Regions from separate parts of the Homo sapiens genome. Here region 2 is reported to be linked to region 1. The links are microRNA targets in miRTarBase. Many come from high-throughput screens and were not tested one by one. Region 1 holds a microRNA gene; the other region holds the end of a gene's coding sequence.
The links. The annotated mature microRNA hsa-miR-1972 reads UCAGGCCAGGCACAGUGGCUCA and lies in region 1 at 1,927-1,948, shown strand. An mRNA with a match to its seed (bases 2 to 7 or 8) in the 3' UTR can be bound and repressed. Matches are read on the target gene's strand: a 7mer-m8 pairs with bases 2 to 8, a 7mer-A1 pairs with bases 2 to 7 and ends in A, and an 8mer does both.

Region 1 (3,218 bases):
AAAAAACTAGCTAGGTGTGGTGGCACATGCCTGTAATCCCAGGTACTCGGGAGGCTAAGGCAGAAGAATCACTGGAACCCGGGAGGCAGAGGTTGCAGTGAGCCAAGATCGCACCACTGCACTCTAGTCTGGGCAACAGAATGAGACTCCATCTCCAAAAAAAAAAAAAATTGTATTGCTTGTGTCCTTATTGAGTTGTAACAGTTCTTTATATATTTTAGATACAAGTTCTTTGTCAAACAAATGTTTTGTAGCTTCTGGGGAAAAGAATGAAAAAGAAATTTTAAAAGAAGACAGGACTGGGACAGTGGCTGGCTGAGTGTGGCGGCTCACGCCTGTAATCCCATCACTTTGGGAGGCCAAGGCAGGTGGACCACCTGAGGTCAGGAGTTTGAGACCAGCCTGGCCAACATGGCGAAATCTCGTCTCTACTAAAAATACAAAAATTAGCCCGGCACGGTGGCGTGCGCCTGTAATCCCAGCTACTCGGGAGGCTGAGGCAGGCGAATCGCTTGAACCTGGGAGGCGGAGGTTGCAGTGAGCCAAGGTCGCACCACTGCACTCCAGCCTGGGCAGCACAGCAAAACTCCATCTCAAAAACATAAAAAATAAAAATAGAAAAAGACAAAAAAAAAAAAAAAAAAAGAAAAAAATGTTTTGCAAATATTTCTCCCAGTCTGTAACTTGCCTTTCATCTTCTTAATAGGGGCTTTCAAACAGCTAATGCTTTTAATTTTTGATAAAGTACAATTTATGGTTCACATATTTTGTATCCTAAGAAATGTAACCTAAGGTCACAAAGATCTCCTGTATTTTCTTTGAGACATTTTATTGTCTTAGATCTATGCTTAGGTTGATGAACCATTTATAGTTAATATTTATATATACAGAGAATAAGATAAGGGTTAAGATTCAGTTTTTTTCCATATGGATATCCAAGCTCTAAGACCACTGATGGAAAAAGATGGTCCTTTCTCCCTCGAATTACTCAGGCATCTGTAAAAACCTGAAGTGTCCATATACTTCACATGAGTCTATTTCTGAATTCTCTATTTTCTTTGGTTAATCTCACACAGTCTTACTTGCTACTTTACAGAAGTCTTGAAGTATGACAAGGTAAGTCTTCCAATTTTGTTCTTTTTCAAAATCCCTTGGGCTGTTCCTAGATCCCTTGTATTTCTATATAAACTTTAGAATTAGCTCATCAAGTTCTATTAAGAAATTGTAGCCTGCTGAGATTTTAAGATGGATCAAGTTGAATCTACAGATTAGTTTGGGAAGAACTGACTTAATACTTAGTCTTCCAACCCGTGTGTATGGCATATCGTTCTTGGGTCTTCTTGAATTTCTCTCAGTAACATTCTTAGTTCTCAATGTACAGATCTTGCATATATTTTGTTAAATTTATCCATAAATTTTTCATCTTTTTTGATCCTATTATAAATGACATTTAAAATTCAATTTCCAATTCTTCTTTGCTAGTATGTAAAAATCCAGAAAATGGTTTAGATTTGATCATTAGTTCCAGTAGCTTTTCTTTAGTTTTCTATCTATACAATCATGCCTGCAAACAAAGTTTTATTTCTTCCTTTCTAATCTGTCAGTTATTTTTTTTGCCTTATTGCACTGTCTTAGATTTCAAGTATGATGCTGAATGAGATAAATGGAGCAGCAAGTGGTAGTTGCTCTGCCGCCTATAAGGTAGATATTTAAGTGTGACATCTTATGAATTTTCTTGTTTAATTTTTACAACAATCTTACAACGTCAGTACAATTATTTTTATTTATTTATTGAGATGGGGTCTTGCTATGTTACCCAGACTGGTATTGAACTTCTGAGCTTAAGCCAACATCTTGCTTGTCTCCTGAGTAGAGGGACTATAGGCATGTGCCACCACACCTGGCTTAAATGTGTCATTTAAAAATTCAGGCCAGGCACAGTGGCTCATGCCTGTAATCCCAGCAATTTGGGAGGCTGAGGCAGGCGGATCACCTGAGGTCAGGAGTTCGAGACCAGCCTGGCCAACATAGTGAAACCCTGTCTCTACTAAAAATACAAGAAATTAGCCAGATGTGGTGGCATGCACCTGTAATCCCAGCAATTCAGGAGGTTGAGGCAGGAGAAACACTTGAACCCGGGAGGCAGAGATTGCAGTGAGGTGAGATTGTGCTACTGCACTCCAGCCTGGGCAACAGAGTGAGACTCTATCTCAAAAAAATAAAATAAAATTCAGTTTAGAACAGGGAAAAGAAGTACATGAAGGAGAAGATAGAGAAGCATTTACCATCTAAATGAAAAAGTATACACACACATAAAATAACTTCCAAAACAAACCAACGATTAAAGAAAAATCTAACGAGCCAACCTTACTATTACAGTTTTTGCTACAATGTGGATATGGACTATCTTAAACATGTGGTACACACACATTTCTTAAGACTTTATCTTTTATAGGCTGAGGACGTAGCCTCGCTCCTATATATTCAAAATGGTAGATTCAGCATCATGCTACCTACCTGCATTTGCGACAAGCAACAGGGGCAGTCTTCCTCGCTCTATATCATCTTTAATCAGTTTCTCCAGGAAGGCAACATCCTGGAACCAAAACAAATCATTAAAAAATGAGGTGCCCAGTATAAAAGCTATAAAATGAAAAATTATGACTTACAAAAGAAGCAGATAACTCTCAAAAGTAATGTCAAATCAATTCTTACTCTTGACAATTTTTCTGTTTTCTCTCATCATAGATGTGAAAATCAAATAGTTTTCCTTGAAGACTAGAAAAATCAGTTAAACAAAATTAAAGGTAAAAACTGTACATATGCAGGAACATTTCTTTGATTTTAAACATTTACATTTAAATGAAATGTTCTCTTAACTCTCCTAAAACAGCCAAGAATGTATCTCTACTATTACTCACTGATGTACCTGAACTAGAAAATAAAACTACCTTGACAAAAGAAATAAAAAACTCTAAAATCCATCCCTTCCTTTTCCTTCTGGAATCATTAAGGAGAGATTTATCACCTGCATGTCTGAAAATAAGCAGAACTCAATTCCATGATGACAATGAAGAACCTCATTTTCAAAATCTGCCCATTCATAAATCCAGGCAACAGTGCTAACTCATTAAAAGTAGGAGCTTCAGAAGAAATTTCTGGTGCTTAATTGAGCTGCCATGTTTCTACTTAAAGCAGGTGATACAGTAATTACAAGA
Region 2 (3,000 bases), not on the chromosome of region 1:
GAGGACGGAGGGGAAGTGAGGTGGGAACATGGAGAGCACAGGCCTGATGCGGAGGCCACCTTGGGGGCACCACCGACAGCCAGGGGCCAGCCTGGTGATGCCGCTGTTGATGCTGCTGCCTTGTTTTACAGACGGGGAGACTGAGGCCTAGAGCCGCAGAGTGGCCTGGCCCTGCTGACGCTCCCCCTTCTCTTCCCCCACAGGACTCTAAGTTCTACCTGGAGGGCGAGGTCCTGTTTGTGAGTGTGGGCAGCATGGTGGAGCACTACCACACCCACGTGCTGCCCAGCCACCAGAGCCTGCTGCTGCGGCACCCCTACGGCTACACTGGGCCTAGGTGATGGCAGTCCATGTGGCTGCCAGGCCAAGGCAGTCACAGGGGCCCTGACCCCAGGCCACACAGACGGACATGGGCCCACATGGGAGGGTGAGCAGGAGCAAGGCTGTGCTTGCCTAGGGCCTCTGTGATGGACATCTCGTAGGACCCAGCCAGTCTCATCCAGCAGGTTGGGTTCTAGGGCTGAACCAGGCGCCAGGCTCCAGAGGACGAAGGGACTCTGTTGCCCCACACTAACTTGCCCTGTCCCAATCCCAGAAACCCAGGACCAAGCTGTGCCTGGGCTCCAAGGACAGGAACACTGGTCCCCCCATCACACTCACCCCTAAGTGGGCTGGGAGCCAGGCAGGGCCAGGGCAGCTGGGTGGGGGCCGGGGCTGGCCCTGGGACCCCCAGGAACGCTAAGACACAGGCTCCAGTAGGGGCTGTTGCCTCCAATAAAGCAGCAGTGAGCTTTGCCTTGGTGGCTGGGGCTTGATTGGGAAGGAGGGGATTACCAGCTTACTGGGTGCCCATGCTGATGTCTAAGTGGTGACCGCAGCAGTACCCGGGAACCCCAACAGTTGGTTGTCTTGTCTTCCAGGGTGCAGGTCACTGAGTGACTTCCCCAGGGTGCACAGCGAGTAACAGATCAGGACCCAAACTTGGGCAGTCTGGGCTGGGAGCCCACACCCCACTCACCAGTTCTGCTGCCTCAGGTCAGGCCAGGGCAGTGCTGCTGCAGAGCTAGAAGGCCCTGCAGCTACAGCTGCTTCATTCCCTGCATTAGTGCCTGGTTACTGGGTACCTCCTGAGTGGCTGTCCCCGTTCCAGAACTTGCATACACTGAGCGGGCTACAGAGCTAGAAGGCCCTGCAGCTACAGCTGCTTCATTCCCTGCATTAGCGAGCAGTTATTGGGTACCTCCTGCATGCCTGGTCCCATTCCAGACAGGGGCCTCTGGCCTGGCTGAGTTCACAGCCCAGTCTGGGGACAGCTGGGTATGAGGTGCTTACGGCACAGTGTCCAGGGCAGCTGGGTGTGCAGGGACTGGGGGCTCCCGGAAGATTTTTTGGAGGAAGTAACAGCTACGATGGGATGGGAACAGTGGACCCTAAGCAGGCCAAGGGTGCGTAGGGACGGTGGTACCCAGATGCCCAAGTCTTCCAGGCAATACCTGGCTCAGGCCCAGCCCCAATCCATCCCCTTACTTTCTGCCATGGAGTTCCAGCAGGTCACTCTCCCTGGCACACCTTCCAGGCTGGATTTTTAATGAAACAGACTCAGGGAGGTAGGGGCTGGCAGGGACCCTAGAATCCTTGTGATTTTTCTTAGCACCTTATGTCAGGGAAACCTAAACTGAGGTCAGCACTTGGGCCCACTGACAGTGACTGACTGGGGGAGAAGGTCCTGCAGCCCCCTTCCCCTGGGTGTGTTCTGGGGACCTGTGGTTTGCTGGCGGAAACAAGTGATGAGGCTGGTTAGCGGATGTGGGAGGCTGTGACCCCAGGGGGCCATAGGGTGCGGTGGAACTGCAGGCCCTGCAGATGACGGCAGCCAGCTGCTTCCAGGAACCAGGTGTCCAAGGCCACCTCTGCAGGGGTTTCCTCTTCAGCCTGCCTGGGGTGAGAGGTCAGTGCACCACAGCCGAGGCTGGAGCACAGGGAGCTTCTGTTGTTCTGATCTATCTCTGGAAAACCAGCCATTCCTCCTCCCTGCAGTCAGAATTCTTTGCCCTGTCTGACCTGAACTTGCTTAGGGAGTCATGCCACTCCCCACTGTGGCCATAGTTTCTCTTCCTGTAAAATTTTATTATTTTAGTTTTTTGTTTTTGAGATGTAGTCTCACCCTGTCGCCCAGGCTGGAGTGCAATGCCGTGATCTCCGCTCACTGCCACCTCCGCCTCTCTAGTTCAAGCGATTTTCCTGCCTCAGCCTCCCGAGTAGCTGGGATTCCAGGCGCCCGCCACCACGCCTGGCTAATTTTTTGTATTTTTAGTAGAGACGGGATTTTATCATGTTGGCCAGGCTGGTCTCGAACTCCTGACCTCAGGTGATCTGCCCACCTTGGCCTCCCAAAGTGCTGGGATTACAGGCATGAGCCACTGTGCCTGGCCCCTTCCTGTAAAATTTTTAAATGGAGAATTGGGTGCGAGATGTGGTTTCCAGCCTGGTGCCTGGGGTGCTGAGCTAGTGAGTGGTGCAGTCCAGGACACCTTTGCTTTATGTCACTTACACGGTCACCTGGAGCCGGCTCAAGTGGCTAAAGCATCCTGGGGCCCAGAGCCAGGTGATAGGTCCCTCTGGCCAACTGGACAGTTGAGGCCTGTGGTTACCCGAAGCCCAGCTGGGGCCCTGGTCCAGCCTCGCCTCCCAGACTCTGCACCTGCTAGCACAGCTGTCCACGTCTGTGTGAGCTGCTCTAGGCCGAGGGCCTCAGTTTCAAGAGTGTGTTGGGGTGGGATGGGGCAGGCCGTGGTCCTCCAGCATGAAGAAGGAGCCATGAGGAGTTCCCATGACCTCCCGAGACTTGCCATAAGTGTTCTAGTCCACATATAAGGGTAGGGTTGGGATTACCATTTACTGACCACATCTGTGAGGTGCCGAGCTGGGTGCTTGACATCATTTGCTTGGAGAAGCAGCTGCTAGTAGACCCATTTTACAGGTGAGAGAACCAAGTCTCAC

Region 2: miRTarBase lists SH3BP2 as a target of hsa-miR-1972. Seed matches in the 3' UTR shown: 7mer-m8 at 1,278-1,284.

The regions. Positions count from the first base shown.
Region 1 is chr16:15,009,059-15,012,276 of GRCh38, reverse strand. MIR1972-1 (microRNA 1972-1) reads left to right here and starts at 1,880; the gene lies at 1,880-1,956. It overlaps PDXDC1 (pyridoxal dependent decarboxylase domain containing 1), which reads right to left. Exons shown (of 23, transcript NM_015027.4): 8 at 2,518-2,596.
Region 2 is chr4:2,833,494-2,836,493 of GRCh38, forward strand. It overlaps SH3BP2 (SH3 domain binding protein 2), which reads left to right. Exons shown (of 13, transcript NM_001122681.2): 13 at 204-3,000. The coding sequence ends at 341. Among named protein-coding and RNA genes, the nearest start is that of ADD1, 8.8 kb to the right of the region's middle. RefSeq lists enhancers at 1,656-1,735, 1,996-2,045.